Linked DNA regions of Homo sapiens: regions 1, 2, 3 and 5 are each linked to region 4. Evidence: fine-mapped expression QTL. A gene starts in region 4. Each other region holds a variant in brackets. All regions are shown on one strand. Distances are from middle to middle.

Region 1 (4,354 bases), 140 kb before region 4:
TGCATTGAGCTGTGATCGCACCCCTGCACTCCAGCATGGGTGACAAGACCTGCCTTTAAAAAAAAAAGAAAAGAAAGAAAGAAAAAAAAGAAAAACTTTAAATCTACAGAAAATTTGAAAGAACAGTACCATGAACACTCTAGACTGTTCACCTTTACCTATATTCATCAGTTGTTAAACTTTGCCATATTTACGCTCTCTCTCTGTCTCTCTCTCTCTCTCTCTCTCACACACACACACACACACACACACACACACACACACACACACACACACAAAACCAGTTTTGGAGAAGCCAAGATGACGGCTGGTTGGCTCACTGTGTAGAAGAGCATACTCCACCTATTTGTCATATGTACAAAAAGCCTTTTTCAGAGAACCTAATATTGCATAAGACATACAATGTCATAATATTAAAGTTGCAATAATTGTGATGATCAATAGAGAGTAACACTGATAGCGAATAAGAAGATATTTTTCTGCAATGCCCCACTTGGGAAGGATAAACAGTCTCAGAGTTTTATGTTCAGGCCTTTTAATAAGGGGAGAGCAAAGGCTTTCACTAGCAGGCAAGGAAGCCTAACACAGCTAGATCAGGGTTAGAGTTAGATATGTTACTGAATGAAGTTACTGGTAAAGGATTTCCAGAAATAGCCCTGTGTACATGGGTATTTCCCCCTTAACTATATTGAAAAGGAGCTTTTAAATAAAGGTTCCCCACTCCCTTTTACAAATTTTAAACATCCAGACTATCACGAGTATCTGGAAGTAGATCAGAAAATCAAAAGGATGCTAAATATTTTGTCTCAAAGAATTACATATGTGAACATTTACTCTACAGATATTAGACTGAACAACATAAATTTTTTTCTAGGTTAAAAAGCCAAATACTGGCAATTACATATATATATATATATATATATATATATTTGCTCATGTATGAAATGACATAAATATAAGAATATTAACTGTAGTTTTTCTTTTTTTTTTTTTTTTTTGAGATGGAGTCTCACACTGTCTCCCAGGCTGGAGTGCGGTGGTTCAATCTCAGCTCACTGCAACCACCACCTCCCGGGTTCAGGCGATTCTCCTGCCTCATCCTCCCGAGTAGCTGGGATTACAGGCACCCACCACCACGCCCAGCTAATTTTTTGTATTTTTAGTAGAGATAGGGTTTCACCATGTTGGCCAGGCTGGTCTTGAACTCCTGGCCTTGTGATTTGCCCGCCTCAGCCACCCAAAGTACTGGGATTACAGGGATGAGCCGCCACGCCCAGCCTGTAGTATTGTTTTTACAAGCGGAAGTCTGGAAATGATCTAAATGGCTAGACAGGAGATCAGTAAATAAAGTATGGTACAGTCATATAATACAATACTAACTGTCAAAAGAAAAAATTAAAAAGCTGCATACCACCTTGAAAATGTCTTAAGATACATTGTTATGTGAAAAAAGTATGGCGCAAAACGAGTTGGTATAGTAAGCTACCTTTTGCATACAAGCATGGAGGAGGGTAAAAAGATACACCTGCATTTGCTCGTGTAGACATAAACTCTGAAAGAATACATAAAAGATGAACAGTAGTAGTTTACTTTTGGAGGAGGAAGAACTGTGTGGATCGATGACAGATGTTGGAGGAAGGCTTTTCAGTGTATTACTTTTCATATATTTTTTAGCCATTTATATGTATTATCTAGTCAAAACGAATTTAAGATTTTGAACATTTAGATAGGGTGATCAGAAATTGGAAAATGATTCTTCCTGTGCCTTCTGTCTACAACAATACAATGTTAAATTGTAATCATCTCTATGAAATTTAGTTTCAAGTGTTTGCAGAGTAACCGTTATTATAGATTTAATTATAAAGATTGATTATTTTTTGGCATGCTGTCTTTGTTTCACATTAGAGAATACAATATCTAAAAGGCCTTTTCAAAAGAAACTTTTTGTGATACAGATTCTTTAGTCATATAATTGCAAAAACAACACTGAAAATTCCTGTGTGCCCGTCACCTAGTTTTCCCCATGGTTTACTATCCCTAAACCTGGCTACCACTAATCTGCTCTCTATCTGTATAACCCTGTCACTTGAGAATACTATATAAATGGATTTACAAAGTATGCAATATTTTGAGATTAGCGTTTAACAATTACTTTTTGCACTCTCATTCCCCATATTGATTGCATTTTCATATTTTTATTTCTTTTCTAGAGATGGGGTCTTGCCATGTTGCCCAAGCTGCTTTCGAATTCCTGGGCTCAACTGATCATTCTGCCTTAGCCTCTCAAGTAGCTGGAACTACAAGTGCAT[A/G]CCACTGTGCCTGGTTCCATATGTCTTGTTTTGTTTTGTTTTTTAAGTCAGGTTTATTGAGGGATAATTTACATACTATAAAACTCACCCTTTTCAGTGTGCAGTTCTATGATTTTTTAAAATAGTTTTGTTTTGGTATAGTGTATAACAAATTACACATTTTCAAGTATCAAATTTGATGAGTTTATATATATTTGTGAAGGCATCATCACAACCTACATAACGATCCATCACCCCTGAAAAGTTTCCTTGTATTACTTTGTAATCCATTTTTCCAACATTATACACTCATTCCCAGGCAACCACTTTGCTATCCATTACTATAGGTTCACATTTTCTAGATTTTTATTTAAATGGAATCACATAGTATATTTTTTCATTTCTCCTGAGTAAATACCTAGAAGTAGAATAGCTGCATCATATAGTAGGTATATGTTTACCTCCTTTACAAACAGCCAAACTTCCAAAATGACTGTAACATTTTATATTCCCACCAGCAATATGTGCAATTCCAATTTCTCCATATCCTCATCAACATTTGGTATGGTCAGTCTTTGTAATTTTAGCCTTTCTAGTGGGTGTAGTAGTGTATTAGTCCATTCTCATGCTGCTATGAAGAAATACCTGAGACTGGGTAATTTATAGAGGTTTAATTGACTCACAGTTCTGCATGGCTGGGGAGGGCTTGAAACTTACAATCATGGCGGAAGGCACCTCTTCAAAGGGTGGCAGGAAAGAGAATGAGAGACAGCAGGGAAAATGCCAGACACTTATAAAACCATCAAATCTCATGAGAACTCACTCACTATCATGAGAACAGCATGGTGGAAACTGCCCCCATGATTCAATTACCTCCCACTGGGTCCCTCCCAGGACACATATGATTATGGGGATTACAGTTCAAGATGAGATTTGGGTAGAGACACAGCCAAACCATATCAAGTAGTATCTCATTGCAGTATTAATTTACATTTCCCTAATAACTACCGATGCTGAGCATCTTTTCATGTGCTTATTTGAACAGACAGAAGCCATACTGAAATGGACCAAAAGAAAGCATGAATGGTGAAGAAAGAATGAGCTCAAATCAGTCTTTGGAAAATTTTGGCAGTGAAAATGGAAGAAACACATATGACAGTGAACTTAAAGAGGGTTTCTTGGCTATGAGGAAGGACCGGTAGAGGAGATTAAAAGAACAAGAGAAAGACATGAAATAATTGATGAAGAAAGGTTAGAGAAGAAATGGGATGAGAATGTGATAAGGATACAGGTTACCTTTGCGAGGAAGAGACAGAAAGTGAGATGGAAATTAAGTGAAGAAATACATTTTGAGATGGTGGCCAGGGAAACTCAAGGGCTTTGCTCAACCTTCCTGGCAAAATTGGGGAAGAACTTATCTACTGAGACTAAAATAGAAGGAACTGGGCCTGGGGCTTGAGAAGGATGACAAGAGTTGAAATTGGTGTTATGAGAAAGCAGTGGGTTGGGAATCAAACAGAGATAAGTAGTGGGATTATCAAACAGCTTTAAGAGCACTCACAAAGAATCTATGTTAGTAAAATTTAATATTTCTTGTATTCTCTTTCCTTGGTTGTCAAGAGTTCCCAAAAAAAGGACATAAATGGGTCAAACAGTTCCATAACTATACTACCTCACAACACTTTCACATTCTCAAGCTCTCTCTCTTTCTTTTTTGAGACTTACAACTTGTTTGGTATGTAGAACAGGTTCCACTCTATACATGAAGAAACAGAAAGTGAGGGAATGGCTTTCCCACAACGCTAGGCTAGCTGGAACTTTAATCCAGATTTTTTGATTCTGATTCTAGTAATTAGCATGTCCCATAATTCTATTGCTGCATCCTGCTGCTATCTACCTTCAATGCTCTTCATTATTGTTCTGACCTTAAAAACTGCCTCAGTTTCTTAATTGTTACTCTACCTTTCTAATCCACCCCACACTCTGCTCCATTCTTTCCTAAACAACATTGCTCATGTTCTACAGAAGCAGAAGTCTGTCGAGAAGTCAGAGTAGCATCTAAGCCT
Region 2 (4,354 bases), 240 kb before region 4:
CTTGCAAAGACTAAATAAGTTGTTTTTTGTTTTGATTGTGTCTTTCCCAAAGGAAACTGAATGAGATCCACTCATCAAATTTACCTTTTAGCATGCAGTGAGCTTTCGCTAATGAGAAGTAAAATTATGAGATTCTTGGGCACTTTTCCCCTCCAAAAGAAGATTGGTTTCCTTTTATTGCTGCTTCTTCTTTTCTTCTTCTTCTTCCTCTTCTTCTTCTTCCTCTTCCTCTTTTTCTCCTTCTCCTCCTTCTCCTTCTTCCTTCTTCCTTTCTTCTTCTTCCTCTTCTTTCTTCTTCTTTCTTCTTCCTCCTTCTCCTCCTCCTTCTTCTTCTTCCTCTTATTGCTTCCTTCTCCTTCTCCCTTTCTTTTTTTTTGGCAGGGTCTCACTCTGTCAACCAGGCTGGAGTGGCACAATCACGGCTCACTGTATCACTGCAGCCTCGACCTCCCCAGGCTCAGATGATCTCCAACCTCAGCCTCCAGAGTAGCTGGGATTGCAACTACTAAGCCCAGCTAACTTTTTTGTAGAGACGGGGTTTCACCATGCTGCCCAGGCTGACTTCTACTGCTTCTTAAAACTACCTCTTAATGTTGAAAATGAAATCCATCTTTCTGTAGAAGATTAAGGAGGTACAATTTTATTTTTGCTATTACTAAAAAAAAAAGTCCCACCTTTTATAGAGAAGAGCTCTTTGTATCATGAGTTGTCCTGATTATTTAAAGAGGAAATAATGACATTACAATCTCATTTCCATACCATTTGCTGAAGAATGACATTATTTATAAGATGCAACCATCTTTGGAATAAGGTAGGAAAAGGCCAGGTATCTATGAGGCCTCCACTTACAATGCAACACTGTTAGCCCTACAAAGGAAGGTCTGTGGTATATATAGTTATTTGTGGCAAGCTAAGGAGATACATGCCTGACATTAACAGGAAGATAAATTTTGAGGAAACCATAGAATATACTATCGTATCCAACATAAAATGGTATTCATCTGCACCATGTAAAATGTTCCAAATTTTATCGACTTTCATAAAAATGTAAATATGTCTCTTGGATAGCACTGATTAAGACTTGGAAAAAGATTGAAGATTCCTGAGTTCATACTAATATAAATAATTGATAAATAAATTGGGGAAAAGAGACAAATCTCTCATGCAGAAGAATTCCAAATAATTTATGTGATAGTTGCCTTTCAAGGAGGTGGAGTTTAATTACCCACTCGTTGAGTGTGGGCTGTGCTTTGTGATTTAATTCCAAAGAGTATAGAAAGGTTGGGGGGAATAACTTTTGCAGTGGAGAAACCTGAGAAGCACTACTTTGGCCAGGTATTCAAAGTCAGCATCATCAGTAATAAGTCATGTCTATAGCTTATACTACTCTCAATACGATATAATCTCACTGAAGGGGGTATCACCTTTTTAATATTTCTCCAAAAACCGATATCCCTAGTCTAACCATGTGAAAACATCAGATAAACCCCACTTGAGAAATATTCTACAAAATACTTAACCAGTACTCCTCAAAACTGTCAAGGTCATCAAAAATAAAAAGTCTGAGAAACTGTTGAAGCCAAGAGGTGCCTAAGGAGATATGACGACTAAATAAATGTAATGTGCTATCCCAGGTAGGCTGCTGAAGGAGAAAAAGGACATTAGAGGAAAACTATGAAATCTGAACGGGGTGTGCAGTGTAGTTAATTGCAATGTACCGGTGTTGATTCCTCGGTTGTGACAAATGTACTGCAGTTACGTGACATGTCAACAACAGGGGAAACTAAGTGAGGGGTATGTGGGAACTCTCTGTAGTACCTTCATAATTTTTCTGTGAATCTAAAACTATTCCAAAATAAAAAGTTTATTTAAATTTTTAAAAGACTGACATATTGTCACAT[C/T]GACTGAAACAGAGTTCCCTGCGTCAATCAATACCTCTTTCTCTCTTTCCCACACACGCCTATCTGCCAAACCATATGGCAAAAAGAGTCCTTTTCCTGAAACATAAGAATACTTAATCCTTCAAGCCACTGTAGTATGAATGGAATTGGACTTATTCTGAAAGTTTTAGATTTCCCAATAATACCTAGGTCATGCCCTCAGTAATATGGGACAAATGCTCAAAAGAGAATGTCAATAAACCTGTATTTCCCAAAAACTTTAAAAGATAAACCATCCTTCAACTGCATTTCCAATAAACTTATATTTTGTGTGAGTTATTGACATAATTAATAAGATAACGCACTAATCTCTGAAAGAAACATATTCTTTGCTAGATTACTGAGGGCAGTGTTCACTTATTGATCAATTGTTACCATGGGAGGCACAGAGGTAGTCTGATGTACTACGGTTTCAGAACATGAGTGAGATTCTTTCCTTGCTTCTCCTTATCTGTCATTTAGAATTATGAGAAATGAAATCTCTGGGAATTTTAGAAGAATTTTTTCATACTGTTTTGAATTTACCATTTTTCTTTAAGAGAAGAAAAAAATAAGTGTTGACGTCAATGAATATTTACCTTAAAAAACTATTACGGATTTGATTTGCAATTGTTAATAAAAATTGTGGCTTTGTTAACATTTTAATGGTACAATTTTAAAAGTTCAGTTGATCAAAATTTAATTAGCCAGGATAATAAATTGGTCAGAATCGCCTCTCTCATTCTGTTTTTAGGAAAGAATGCAAATGTCTTTAAAGAAAGCTTGGGAAAAAAATACATGCAAGTTCTTGAATATATTTTAGGGCTAAAAATAAGATTCAAGGCTGGGCACAGTGGCTCATGCCTGTAATCCCAGCAATTTGGGAGGCCTAGGCGGGTGGATCATCTCAGGAGTTCGAGACCAGCCTAGTCAACATGGTGAAGCCCTGTATCTACTAAAAAAAAAAAAAAAAAAAATTAGGCATGGTGGCAGGCACCTGTAATCGCAGCTACTTGGGAGGCTGAGGCAAGAGAATCGCTTGAACCCAGGAGGAGGAGGTTGCAGTGAGCCGAGATCATGCCATTGCATTCCAGCCTGGGTGACAAGAGCAAAACTCTGTCACAAATAAATAAATAAGATTCAGTAAAATCACCTGCACATTCCATATCTATAGTACTTTGCAACAATAACATATATTAGGAAAAAGACTGTAATAACGAGAAAAAGAAAAAAATGTTCACTATGGAATTCTTAGTTAAGGCAGAACAGTCAACTAACATATTTTAGGAATATTTCTCATAGTAAGGTATTTAATATGGAAAAAAATAACTGGGAAGGAGGGGGATCTACAGTTAACGTAGGTAGCTGTTTTATTTATGTTACTCTTCAAGAAGTTCAATTAATATGTATTTTGCATTTCATTATAGTATTGTGTGTGTATGGTCAATAACGAGAATTATAACAATCCCTTTCCCAGAATACCGATGATGTGCAAGGCTTTAGGCTGCCAGGCATTTGACATACACCACCTATAACTTAACACAACGCTACAAGTTATGAACAATTAGTGTTTCACAATTGAGAGAACTGAGGGCACCAGAAGTTAGGGGACTGATTGAAAGCCCCACAGCTTATAAAGGAGGGAGCCATTACAAACTCTGTCTGGCTGCCTCAATTGCCTGAACTCTCTCCCACCATATCATACAGCTTTGTTATCATATATTATAATTACTAACACTATTAAAGTAGGCATTTATTTATCACTAAGTGATTTAAGTCATTTAGTCTTTCTAGGCTTCAATTTTATCTTGGGTAAAATGAAGTTGACGTATTGATTTCTAATGTTTCATAGAAATATTAATTTATATACAGAATAAAAAATTAAATGGTAATTTTCACAATATTTTTGTTTAAAGAAGAAGATCATTAACATTGGCCCTTACTAAATGTTGTGATGATGGTATCAATCTAGAAATGCTCATGTCATCTCTCTCAAATCCCTCCAGTCCTGTTAAGCCAGGACTAGGGATCTTACCATTTTTAATGTTATTCCTTAAAACTTACATGTAAGAGGAAATCGTATATTTTTCCCAGCACTATACAAACTATATACTTAAACTTTTTGGCTCCTAAAGAATTAACAACTTGCATTCAGATATAAATAATGCAATCAAACCCATTTTTCTGGATCTGAAAATAATCAAAAATTTTATTTTAATTCACATTTATTTAAATATAACATTTTTTATAGACACATGAAGGTACTTATGAACATTTATAACATGGTAGGCACAAATATAGATGAAATGTTTAGGTATTTTCGACAAAATTTCACACAAAATTAGACAAACTGACTATGTGCTTGCATTTAATTTCAAGGGTACATTAACACAGATATTTGAAAAGGATGTTCTTTTACAAAACTACTACAAAAT
Region 3 (4,354 bases), 300 kb before region 4:
CAGTCACATGGTCTCAACTTTACTCACTAAAGCTAGCAGGCAAGGGCCTAGTGAGTTGAATTAGAGGTTTAATTAGAAGAACAAGCAATAAATGCTAAATGTTCTGTTGCAACTGTGTAACTTTCTGTGGGATTTTATGCCTTGTATCTTTTTTCCTGAATTCCAGACCAACGGGGCTGCACTAGAACCCCAGAAGCAGAGAATTCCATAACTCAGACTCTTTGATTCAGATATTTTTCTTTTCATCACCTTGAGAGAGCAAATAAATCCCCCAAACTACTTTTCCCACCTCTCAAGCTTCTAGAGGATATTCTTGACTGGAATTTGTCCATGTTCTTAAATAACAGGTTACTTCACGTTCTTTGTGTTTAAATAAATGTAATTAGGCCTGTTTTTAAAAACTATGGAAAATATTAAAAAGAAAATTAAAATCATCTATAAACTTACCACTTAGTGGCAGCCACATGAACATTTTTGTGTTTCCTTATTTCTACACATATGTATACTTTCCAAAATTTGTCATAAATGTTTTAAAGGTGCTTCATATATTGCCAAATTGCCCTCCAGAAAAGTTAAATCAATTTATAATCCATTTTCAGTGAATGGTGTAATTTTAAAAGCCAGCTTTAAATTTGAGTTGAAAAATGATGCCTCACAGCTGTCTTTATTTTCTTCTATCTCCCTCAATCCTAAAGTTGACCATTTCTTTCCTATGGTTATGGCCAATTACAGTGGACATCGTGTTTCACTCCTCAACAACAATGTAGTTTCTGGAATTGACCCCAGCTCTCGGAATGAGTCCTGATTACTATTGAACCAAGCATAGTAATCCAATCTCTTTGGCTAGTGAAAGGTTCAAAATCAAAACATAGCATTCCTGTGACAAGAGATTTAATCCAGGTTGGTCCTAATCTGAGTCAATAAGGCTGAGAAGAAGCACTTGTATTTTGTTGCTAGAAAAGAGATTCTACGGCCTGGTGTGGTGGTTCACACCTGTAATCCCAGCACTTTGGGAGGCCGAGGTGGGTGGATCATTTGAGGTCAGGAGTTTGAGACCAGCCTGCCTCTACCAAAAACACAAAAATTAGCCGAGTGTGGTCGCGGGTGCCTGTAGTTCCAGCTACTCGGGAGGCTGAGGCAGGAGAATCGCTTGAACCCAGGAGGTAGAGGTTGCAGTGAGCCAAGAAAAAAAAAAAAAAAAAGAGAGAGAGAGAGGTTCCACTTCTCCTCTGATGAATGTGAACAGGAAAGCGTATTGTCCCCACGTGCTGCTGGGTGTTATCTTGTGAACCTCAGAGAAGTCAACCTGACTTTCTGGTTACATGCAAAAATATATTATTTCCTTAGTGTTTAGGTTAGTTTGATTTGGGCTTCCAATTTTTACAGTGAGAAGCTGTCAGAACCCTTTCTCTTTATGGGATTTTTGGAGTTTTTTATTTGGTTTTTGCCAATTCCTATTAGGCATTATCAGTGTTTTTATTGTTGATGTGGTAAGAACTCTATTGAGGGTGTAATCTTGTTGTCTATTTATTATGACTATGTCTCCAAGTTTATCACTTGTTCATTATTTGCTATGTAGTCTTATTTAATTCAGAGAAGAATATAGTCTTAATGTAATTAAATATACCAGTATTTTTCTTTGTGATATATTCCATTGCTTTTACTGTTATTCATTCACTAATAGGTGTGTGTGTGTGTGTGTGTCTGTGCGTAGCAACCACAGGGTTCCAGGCTATAATACACAAGCGAGCCAAAAAAGATACAGTCCCTGTCTTATATCCTAGTTTATATCCTAGTGGGGGGACCGAGGGTAAGGCAAACATTAAACTGAAAAGCCAC[C/A]CAAATAAGTGTGAGCTGCCAGTGGACAGATCCTACAAAGAGAAGGTACACAATATATGAGAGCTCTAATAGGAAAATTAGGACTAACTAAGGAAATCAGGGGAAGCTTCCCTGGGGAAACGGTGATTGAACTATGAATGATGAAAAGGAGTCAGGTAGCTGGGTAAGGGCATTACAGGTAGTAGGAACTATAGGTGCAAAGGTCCTGCTCAGGAACAAGCACAGGAAATAAGAGGGATAAAAGAAAGTAAACGCCACCGGATCCTGAGAGGGTCTTGGTATAAGATGAAGCTGGAAAGGCTGAGAGGTTGGGGGATGGAGCTGGGAGAAGCTGACTATGCAGGGTTAATAAGTCCGTGTTAAAGAGTGCTGCCTCCTTCCTAAAATCCATGGTGTCATCTTTGACAACCATATTACCTTTACCCCCAACATCCAATTCTATCAAACCCCCAAATCCTATTACTTTTGCTTTCTACATATCTCTTTAATCTATCCACTTTAATCTGTCCATTTCTCTTCATATTTACCAACACTGCTTTAGTCCATTCTATCATCATTTCTGCTTGCACTAATGGAACAGCCTCCTCATTGATCTATTTGCTCCTACTCTTGCCCCAGTTTAATCCATTCCATGGTAATGAGAATTCAATCCTGACATTGATAGCATTTGATGACATAAGATAACATTAGAAGATCTAATGTGCAACAGGAGGGCTCCATGAAATAATATTGTATTGTACTTGAGATTTTCCCTAAAAGAGTAGATTTCAGGTGCCACACACAAAAAACAAGTAATTATGTGAGATAATGGATGTGAATTTGCTTGACTATAGTAACCTTTTTACTTTCTATATGTATATCGAAACATCATGTTGTACACCTTAAATATATACAGTAAAATTTTTAAAATAAGAAATGCAAGAAAATAAACTTGTTAACAAAAAAGAAGGAAAACACTGACAAAGAACCAGTTTGGATTTTTGTTAGTTTGTTTTTTGAGAGGAGAGGGTATGCAGCGGGCAGTTTATGAGCTCAATTGTGGACCCGTTGAGTTTGAAATGCTCTTGGGATGTCCTGGAGAAGAAGCCAGGTAGGAGGTGAATGCTAGGTGGATATCTTCTGCTTTCCCACATAGAGCCACTCTCCACCCTTCTCTATTCTGCTGTATCCAGAGAGACTGACCTGTATGAAATGAATCAACATCCCATGTAACCTTAGCACCTGGTTCCCGTGTTCTCTGTCTTCTAGTTAGGTTCAGCCAATGGGAGGTAGAAGCAGAAGACTGAAGGCAGAGCGTGGAGGCTGATTATTTATTCCATATTATCTCCATACTGCATTCTCTCTTCCCCTTCCTTCTCCTGCCCCTCTTCCCCACCTTTTCCTACTTGTACCACTCCTTTGCCACCTCCTCCTCTCTCTCACTCTCATTCAGTAATCATTTCCACCTGCTTCCTTGTTTAGGCCTAAAGCAGTAATGTTCCCTGAGATACTGTACCATTATCCTTTGTTGCCTTCCCTAAACCCTCTGTAAATGATCTCTTAACTAAAGTCTTCTTAATTACCCATTTTGAATGTGCCATACATTTCCTGCATGGATCCTGACTAATACTGAAAAGTTGGAAATGGTTAGGCTGGAGTTTGAGAGTCACCTGACAGGAGGTGGTAACTACAGCCATAGGCATGATGAGAATCCTTGGAAGACAGTGGAGAGAAGGGATGGGCCCAGAGAAACTCAAACATATAATGGTCCCCAGAGGAGGATAATCCTGCAAAGTCACTGGAGAAGTAGTGGCCAAACTGGTAAGAGAAAAATTAGGGAAGTGTTATGAAAGCCAAAGGAAGCAAAGGGAATAAAAAAAGCGTTTGCAGTCAAGACTATCAACTGGTGCTGCAGTCATTGGATTTAGTGACTTAAATGACATCCGGAATCTGTTACATATTTTCTGTGTTCCCTTGTAGTTTATAATGCTTTTAATTTTTTATATTTCTTTAACTTATCTAGAATTTATTTCAGAATACAGTTTAAGGTGAAAATTTATCCTTCTTTAGCCATTATTCCAACATCATTTACTAAATAATTCATCACTTTCTCTGTTACAATTACTTCATCATATACTGTTTTTAAAAGTACAAAGAGATGCCTAAGCACTTTCTATTCGATGTTTAAGAGCTTCCTATTTAACTATCATTGTGGAAAGGGTTGTCACTTTCATACATTTCAATATCGTTTTGAGCAAGTCTAACTTCTTATTTCTTAATTTTCAGAATTATATTATTAATAGTCTATTTATTCTTCCAGATGAGCCTTAGAAACATTTTATCAATTAAAAAAATCCACTGGGATTTTGTTTGGGATTGTTTTAATCCTACAAATTAAATTGGGAAGAGTTTAACTTCATTATATTTAGCCAGAAACTTCACACACACACACACACACACACACACACACACACACATCTACTTATCATCAAGTCTTTTTTTAGCTCTAAGAAGAGAATAAGAAGCATATTTTGTG
Region 4 (4,354 bases):
AGGTAAACAACGACATTAACATCTGGTACTCACAGGAGTGCTCTTTAAAAAAAAAAAAAATCACTATTACAGGGTACGCACCAAGGCTCACACCTGTAATTCCAGTACTTTGGGAGGGAGACGGGGGAGGGAGGGATCGCCTGAGCCCAGGAGTTTGAGATAAGCCTGGTCAACATGGCGAGGCCCCATCTGAACAAAAAAAAACAAACAACAAAAAAAAAATCTTTATTAGCTGGGTGTGGTGGTATGTGCTTATAGTCCCAGCTACTTGGCAGGCTGAGGTGAGAGGATCGCTTAAGCCTACGAGTTAAAGGCTGCAGTGAGCTATGTGCATGCTACTGCACTCCAGTCTGGGTGACAGAGAGAGATCTTGCCTCAAAAAAAAATGCTATTAAAGACATTGATGTGTGTACTCTCCCCTATATAATGCACATCAACTTGCTTTGCAAAACAATGCTAAAGTACAAAAGACTTAAAGCTGTAATATAAAATAGACTTTACTGACTTGCACCAATACAACCACAACTTTTTTATACACCACTGACACACATTCTACATCTGTTTAATGAAATCCTTTAAAGTACCGTTAGTGAGTAAAACTAAGACAAACCTATTAAGTGCTAAGGAAACACTAAGGGAGACTATCATTTAATTATCGTACATGAGATTCCAATCTTAAATTGCCACGTGAAGTCTCAAATCGGATCTTTTTTGCTTAAGGGAATTTGAACGATGACAATTCTGTAGCTTTGGGCCAATTCACAGACTCAGTTTCCACAACGTTATAATACCCAATTAAAACTTCTGTCCAATTTCCACCGTACCGTTTGAAGGTATTTTTATGTGCACTCATTCTAGAATACTCCTGGCAAGGCCGCCGGCTTCGGGTCACAAGATGAGCCAGGGACAGATTGGAGACTACCCCCAAATCTCCCAGGAATCGGTTATCTTCCAGACCTCCAGATCGCCCTCCAGAGTCTCGCAGTGTGGAGGGCAACGACAGAAAGACTGCTGAGGGGGTTTAAACTGTTGAGTCAAACATATGGCCAAAAGTCAGAGTCAACTGGGACCTTGCAAATCATTCCGCCTAACCCTTCGTTTTGCAGATGGGGAAAACACGCCTCAGAAGGGAGAACCCTAGCTCGGGGAACCCTAGCTCGGGGTCTAACAACGATTTAAGCTTGTCTCCCCTAGTACTGGCCAGTGGTTCTTCCCCGTTACCCATCCTTAAGTGCTTCTATTGGCTGCCAACACGGAGGGGTTAGCGGGGTGAAAGAACCGGCGCCTCCGCAGTGTGGCCAGGTTGGGCTAAAAAACGTCTTAGAAGTAATCGGATCAATCTCTCTTCTTACAGGTGGAGAAAGTGGAGAAAGTAGAGTGACGCAGCTAAGGGAGTAAATCGACCCTCAGCCAACAAGTGGCAAAAGCCTGAAGAAAGTGATCAAGATCACTGATGACCCCGCTGCCCATCTCCAAGGGGGCGGGTATCACAACCCCGACGCCACACCACGTATCATTCCGCAAAACTCCCGCGCCTCCCACGCAGAACTGGCAAGAGGGAAGGCGAGACAGCAGTGAACAGCTGGTACGCAGCACCCACAGCACCGCGGCAGCAGCTAGTGCCGACTCCCGCCTAGCTCTTTTGACTCTGTTCGCGGGAAGAATGGGGAAACAGTAAGGTTGCGGCGCCTCCCGCGAGACGAGGTACCTGAGGCTGGCCCCGCAGTCCCCCGCCGCACCAGCACCGGAGCTTCACACCCCACTTCCGGGGTCAAGTCACCGCCGGGAATCCTGTGATCGCAGAAAGGTAGTCTCAGGTTCCGCCCCTATCCAAGTCCCGCCTCCACTGCCTCTCGCCCTGTATCTGTCAACTTCCGGGACGCCGCGCGTCACTAAGCAGCCAATCTCCACTTCCGGACTCATCCAGCCCCTTCTCCACCCCTTTCAGAGACAGCGCGATTGCGATTTAGGTTTCCGCGCATTTAATTGGCGAAGCTGGAGCGCTAGTCTTCGCTGATTGGTGCCGAGAAATCTGCCCCATAGACACCCGCGGGGCGCACAGTTTCAGTCGTCCGTGGGTTTCCCGCCAGCCGCAGTCTTGGACCATAATCATGGTGGACATGATGGACTTGCCCAGGTCGCGCATCAACGCCGGCATGCTAGCTCAATTCATCGACAAGCCTGTCTGCTTCGTAGGGAGGCTGGAAAAGGTGTGCGGGTTCGCAATCATGGGCTCCCAAGTCCGTAGCTGGAGGGAGGGACCCCGCCTGGATAACGGGGGATGAAAAAGGACGGAAAGCCTCCGATCACTGCGCCCCCGACTCCTTTATTTTGCACAAGGAACTTTTTGGAAATTCTTTAGCCGTTGTAGCCCCATTTTGGCGCTCTTTTATGGCACGGAAACAAAGTGTTTTCAAATGCTGAGTTCTAAATTCCAGTGCCCGTCGCCTCCGTTCTAGCCGTGCTTACGTAAGGGAAATTATAAACACCACTCCCACATCTACCTTCAGATTTCTTAGTTTACTCAGACGTGACGGACGCAGACAAAACTAATCTGCTGGTTTCCTTCTCTTCTGAAATTACTTATTTTTGCAAACCTCGTTTCCTCGTTGTGATCGCTTCTCTGTAAAACATGCCTTGGTTGTCCGCTTTGGGTCCCGTAGTAACGAGTTATTTAACCCCAGTATTAAAGTGAAGTTCCCTCATTCTACAGGCGAGAAACAGGCCCAAAGTCTTGGAATCAGTGACCTGAAAAGCTGAGGAAAAGAAAACTATTATATAAAGACTTATTTAGTAGCTCATTTCATCCACACATCCTCTTCCTTAAATGAGTGTTGCTCTGACTTCCCAAGTAGGGAAACTGAGTAGGAGTGGTAGGTGGTTGACTAAAATGCTCAGAAACTCGGCAAATGGCAAAGCTGGCATTCAAACGCAATCTGACAGCGCTCTTTACAGCTGCTTCCCAGGAGTAGGACCCAGATATTCTAGCAACCAGTTCTCCTTTTACTTCATCATGCCTGTTTTTTAAAACATACCCTCCGTGGGATATGTACTGTCTAAATCATGAGTGCCAGCAGATTTCACTTTTAGGGTGGGCATCCTTTAATTTGTTATCAGAATAGGGTTGCCATATTTAGCAAATACAGAACCTACTTAACACTACAAAAAAAATCCTTGTTTATCTGAAATTCAGAAATTAACTGTGTGTTCCATGAACAGATTTGATAACATAAGATTATAATTTGATCCAATAAGTTGAATAAACTGAATGAATAAACTGTTCAAGAAACAGTTGATTTGTGCTCAACTAAGGATCAATGTACTCATCTTTAGTCAAACTTTGTTGTTGTTTTAGTGAGATTTTAATTATATGTTTCGTTTTTAGATTCATCCCACCGGAAAAATGTTTATTCTTTCAGATGGAGAAGGAAAAAATGGAACCATCGAGTTGATGGAACCCGTATGTTTAAGTGTTAATAAGTCTCTTATATATTATAGTTAATTCTTCATCTTGATTTGGTTTGTTGCCGATGTTTCTAATTTTTGCAATGGATTTAAAAAGGATGAGCTGGTAAAACGTCCCTGGCTGTAAAATTTAATTCTTGTACTATTCTCTCATTATATTTCCTTTTACATTTTTAACCAATGATTTTTTGGGCGTCATGATTTTTGAACATATCCCATAAATGTTGGATAACAATTCTCATTCCTTATGAAAGACCATAAAATCACATAAGAAAAATTTACGTTGCTTTTTTCTTCCTCAAGAGGTTTTTTGTTTCGTTTTTGTTTTTTTGTTTTGAGACAGGGTCTCACTCTGTTACCCCGGGTGGAATGCAGTGGCACCATCATGGCGCACTGCAGCCTTAGCCTCCCAAGATCAAGTTGCTCCCATGTCAGCCTCCCCAGTAGCTGGGACTACAGGCATGCTTAACCATGCCTGGCTAATTTTTGTTTTGTTTTGTTTTGTTTTGTTTTGTTTTGTTTTTTGTAAAGATGGCATCTCCCTATGTTCCTCAGGCTGGTCTTGAACTCTCGGTCTCAAGCAATCCTCCTGCCTCGACCAGCCCCTCAAGAGTTTTCGATTTTATTTTATTTTCTATTTTTGTTCATATATTTCCAGTTTTTACTTATTTATGTTTGCATTTTATGTTTAACATACTTAAAACTTTTTTTGGTATTTTGTGAAGACAAATCCATATGCTGTTTGGTTAATGTATACAGAACACATTGTGAAATACAGATTATAGAAGATTCCTCTCATAGGATATTACTGCTTATAGAAATGCTGGACGTTTTCAATAGTGATTTTGTCTTTAACTTGAATTGTAGCTTTGGACTTGAAGCTACTGCT
Region 5 (4,354 bases), 110 kb before region 4:
TCAAGTATTTTCTTTTTGGGCTTACAAATGAGAGTGGAGGAGGGGTCTTTTACTTCTCACTTTATGCCTTCTGGAATATGTATGCTACATAATAAATATATTTTTTCATGTTTAAAACCATTAACTACAGACCAGGGTGGATCCAGGTTGTAGGGTAACTGAATCTTATGCAACTTTTCTAGACCTTTTAAAGAAAAAGAATACAAAATTATGAATACAAAATTAGAAGAGAAAGTGGAAGTATATTTAGAACAGAAAAATTACAAATTTTAAATAGCTGAAAATAAACATCATGAAATTCAGAAAAATACCATCTTATTTTTATTTATCCAACAAACCTCTATAATGCTTTTTTCTAAAATTTTTGATTATACATATTTTGACAAATGACAATTTTATAACACAATTTTCCACATACGAAATTAAAAAATAATTTGGCATCTCTTCTAATTATGCTATAAAAAGAATTTTTAGAAATATGTGTTAAGGAAAGATTCTTTTCAGTTCACAACTCATGTCGGGTTTTTAGGATCACTGTAAAATTTGGGAAAACTTTCATAAAATTTTTTTCTTTTATGAGTTGCAAAATTTCAGGGTATTTCAAAGTTTCATATGTGGCAACTAATATATATACTCTTTGACCTGAAGATACTCATTAATTATAAAGCTCATTATAGTTACATATTATGACATTTTATGTTGTCTTTCTCGATACGTATTTTGTGGTTAAATCAAGAGAAACTTAAGTGTTTCCCCAGTGTATTCATATGATTCACTCTTTTTTATTAACTAAGTTTTCAAGTAGTCTATCAAGCCTATTTATTATCTCTATTAGAAACTTTTCTTTTCAATGCATTACTGCTTTTGTTATAATCTATTTTTTTACAACATGCTTTTTGATATCAAATAATTTCTACTTATTTCATCATTCATCTTTGTTGCTTTAGTTTTATGTTCCATTATCTAAATTATCTCAGTTCTTTAAAAAATAAGTGCAAAAATGAGAAAATAATGAACCCTATGTACCTAAATTAGGAGTCTATAATTTCTCCCTTGTCTTATTGAAATGTTTCAAAATATCTTTCAAACTATAGTTTAAAGTTGTATATTCTCAACTCAATTTCCCTTTAGCCAGATCTGATAAATGCCTGTGATCATTCCAAAGCAATCCTGTGTGAGGAAATGTGATAGAAGGACCGTCAGAGTAGAAAAGAGATAGCAGTCTTAACTAATTATGCTTAAATACCTTTAAATTCCTCAAATTTTGCAAAACCATATGATCACGTGAACACATTGCTAGAGGTCCTCGCAGAGCCTTGGAGGAGGTCTGTGCAAGTCAGAGGTCCTGAAACCTAAATCCCAGTAAATTTACTCCTGGTAAATTTGCCTCTGATTACAGGTAAACAGGGCAGTTACAAGATCCAACTGAAGCCAAAGGTCCTTGGCTCAAGCCCAGGAGGAGCTGGGTGTTTGTCCCCACCTGTCCCTCCACCCTCATATACAACATTCAATATCAGGGTGACATATGCTTATAGGAAGTGTTAGTGCAAAGTCTAATTTAGTTTCCCTGACTTTTCCACATTGCAAAGCTAGAATTGCTTACATTCCTCATTTCTGCCAAAATTGAGATTCACACAGGTTGAAATCTTAGTTAACCAAAAATCTCTAACTTATCAGAAATTTCTTCAGTTTCAGTTTCACCAATCCATTGTTTGCATTGGCACATCTAGTCTCTCTCTCTCTACAATTCTTGAAACTTTAACTTTAGCCCTATTTTAACATACCAACTCTAAAAGTTTTATTTGCCCCACACATTCATTAAAATTATCTCTCATTTATAAAATATGGGCTAAAATCATGATACATATAATTGGGGAGAGATATAGTCAACGACAGAGCTCAATACTGTACTTCATAATCTGAAGTAATGTAACTAGTGGTATAACACAGAAAACAATAATGACAGCATTATATTCACATTGCTCAGCTATATACACAAAGAGAAGCCTGCATAATATCAAATGGATAAATAAAGTAGAAGTCTCAACTGGCTTTTAACACAGTTAAAGCTGGTTTTCAGTTTCTCTTTACAATTCATCTTGTATTTTTAATATAGGGAATTTCAAAGTATTATGGGGGTCATTACTTCTTATTAAATACTTTATTGACA[C/T]TGTTTGCTATCTCTATTTACCCTTTCCTACTTTTAAATCCAGCAATAGGATTAGAACAATTATTGCTTTCACCAAATTCTGAAACATCTGAAAAATACATACAGTTAAGAGCACTCTGCAGCCAAACTGACTGGGTTTATATCTCAGCTCCGCCATGTTCTAGCTGTGTGATTTTGAGCAAGTTACTTAACCTCTCTGTGCCTCATTTATCTTATTTGTAAAATGGGGATAAAATAATGCCTACCTCATAAGTATACTGGTGAGGATTACATGAATTCATGTTTGTAACTACTTAGAACAGTGCCTTACACACAGTAGTGTTGTATATGTGTTTGTTAAATATAAGAAAAATATGAAACCGTGTATAATATAAAATGGGCCGTCATTAAAGAAGCTATAATCAAGAAATCAGGTAGTTATTCTAATTGGAGTGGAGTTTTATTATTTTCCATCAAGTATTGTACATTTCAAACTGCCAAAGACAATTAGTTCAAATTTAAAAGCACAAACACATTTCTGGGCCAAATAAACAATTTGTACATTATCAATACCATATCTATCTCTGATAATGAGGAAGTCAAAGACTGACAAGCAGCTTAGTAGAGCCTGACAGATGTGAAATGGACTCTAGCTGGGCAGTTTTAAGGAATTTATTTAATTTTTTGGAAACTCCGTTTCCAGATTTGGGCAAATGGGTATAAATACTACCTAGACTTCTTAAGATATTAGTTAAAATTACATTATATAAGACATATATAAAGAGCTAATATGTAGTAGAAGATACTTAATGCATAGAAGTTATTATAATTGCAATTGACCATAATTCTATTTTGCTAATATTCCTCCTTACATTATAGACCACTGCTTCTCACCATTCTAGCAGTATAATTAAGAATATTTATCTTCCCTATTCACTTTTGTTAAGATGTCAAACATAATCAATGTCTGACCTTGTCTTGGACTGAGACTGAATAACATTGGTGAAAGAGATCCTTCATGGATATTTATGAATGCAAATGTGACACATAACGTCCTTTCATTAGTAGTTACTTACATTATTAAAAGTTTTACAGAACTTAGATAAACTATCCTGGAAAATAATACTCTTATCTTAGACGTTTTCTGTGTAATAAATGTTTCAATTTATAGCACCTTTTATGAGAACATACAAAAATCTCAATATATGCTATTTTATAAATCTTTTCATCATATCTACATATTAGATCACAGCAAATATCAACGCCCAGTTTTATTTTAGAAAAATATGAGAGTAAAGATTCATGACTTGCCCTCCTAAGCATGCCAAGAGGGGAATTCACATAATTTCTCACTTTTCTGAAGGAAGCCTTTGCCACCAGTACTGAGAACACTATAAAATTAAGTACTGGAAGCTAAAATTGCTAAATATTCTATAAGCCATGAAAAAAACGCTTACCCACTCCCATTCCTGGAAAAGGCATTAACTAATGTTCCTCAAATATTTTTCCTTGGATTAGGCAGAAACAGTTCAAACCCACAGAAGACACATAGCTTTCACGTGGAATACGGGCTATTAAAGTGTGCACTGCTGGAAAGTAATTAAACCATACTGTACTCTCACTGAGGTGAGATTATAAAAACCTAGAAAAGAGTCCTTCAAGGAAAATGTGTCAAAACCATTTAAATTAATTTAGCACATCAAATTTCACTCTATTTATTGTGGAATTGTTGCAGTTATTTTAACATTAAAAAGAAGTAACTGATAAATTGAATTTGTTATGGAATCCCCCACAAACCTGTCCTCAAATCTATTATAAAACACCAATACCAAGTATGGAAAGGCTCATGCTAGAAAGTTTAAAAACATTATCAAGGGAAATTTTTTTTAAGCAAATACAGAAATCAATGCAAAGCAATCACACTGATCTGGGCGAAGAAGAGCCCAGAGTAAAAGAAAATCATGTGTAATAGGATATCTCTAGCACAGCCAGAAAAGGAGGGATAAAAGAGGGAATTAGGAGTGTGAGAAGTTTGGCAGTTCTTAGATTTACTGATGACCCTGCCTGGCTGATAGAGCTAAATCCTAAAGTATCCTTCTGATAAATATTACATTATTTTCCCCAAATTTTTGCTCCTAAAAATAAAAGAATTTTTTAAATTTTTATATATACAAATATATAAATATACACATATACTTATATGTC

Alleles and levels. Alleles are on the strand shown, and positions count from the first base shown. SD is a standard deviation of normalised expression in the study named. Not every link is listed here.
As copies of T replace C in region 2, the expression in lung of the gene that starts at base 1,778 in region 4 goes up (small effect, 0.34 SD a copy in GTEx).

Evidence for each region. PIP is the estimated chance that this variant, and not a neighbour inherited with it, causes the effect.
Region 1: its variant is the best candidate, but not a certain one, in a credible set for the expression of UMAD1 in stomach (GTEx, PIP 0.58).
Region 2: its variant is the best candidate, but not a certain one, in a credible set for the expression of UMAD1 in lung (GTEx, PIP 0.69).
Region 3: its variant is the best candidate, but not a certain one, in a credible set for the expression of UMAD1 in transverse colon (GTEx, PIP 0.78).
Region 5: its variant is the best candidate, but not a certain one, in a credible set for the expression of UMAD1 in lung (GTEx, PIP 0.76).

What each region holds. Positions count from the first base shown.
Region 1 is chr7:7,774,150-7,778,503 of GRCh38, reverse strand. The region is part of intron 2 of UMAD1 (UBAP1-MVB12-associated (UMA) domain containing 1); the gene reads right to left. Among named protein-coding and RNA genes, the nearest start is that of RPA3, 58 kb to the right of the region's middle. The variant A/G (reference allele first, on the strand shown) is at 2,310.
Region 2 is chr7:7,878,968-7,883,321 of GRCh38, reverse strand. It overlaps UMAD1 (UBAP1-MVB12-associated (UMA) domain containing 1), which reads right to left. Exons shown (of 4, transcript NM_001302348.2): 4 at 4,099-4,354. The region is part of intron 3 of LOC124901586 (a long non-coding RNA gene); the gene reads left to right. Among named protein-coding and RNA genes, the nearest start is that of GLCCI1-DT, 88 kb to the left of the region's middle. The variant C/T (reference allele first, on the strand shown) is at 1,902.
Region 3 is chr7:7,939,735-7,944,088 of GRCh38, reverse strand. No RefSeq gene overlaps it. Among named protein-coding and RNA genes, the nearest start is that of GLCCI1-DT, 27 kb to the left of the region's middle. The variant C/A (reference allele first, on the strand shown) is at 1,840.
Region 4 is chr7:7,638,176-7,642,529 of GRCh38, reverse strand. UMAD1 (UBAP1-MVB12-associated (UMA) domain containing 1) reads right to left here and starts at 1,778. Exons shown (of 4, transcript NM_001302348.2): 1 at 1,709-1,778. RPA3 (replication protein A3) reads left to right here. Exons shown (of 8, transcript NM_002947.5): 5 at 1,355-2,210; 6 at 3,386-3,460. The coding sequence starts at 2,112. RefSeq lists enhancers at 1,318-1,487, 1,568-1,617, 1,658-1,857, 2,128-2,177, 2,548-2,597 and a silencer at 1,958-2,087.
Region 5 is chr7:7,748,732-7,753,085 of GRCh38, reverse strand. All of the region lies in intron 2 of UMAD1 (UBAP1-MVB12-associated (UMA) domain containing 1), which reads right to left. Among named protein-coding and RNA genes, the nearest start is that of RPA3, 32 kb to the right of the region's middle. The variant C/T (reference allele first, on the strand shown) is at 2,171.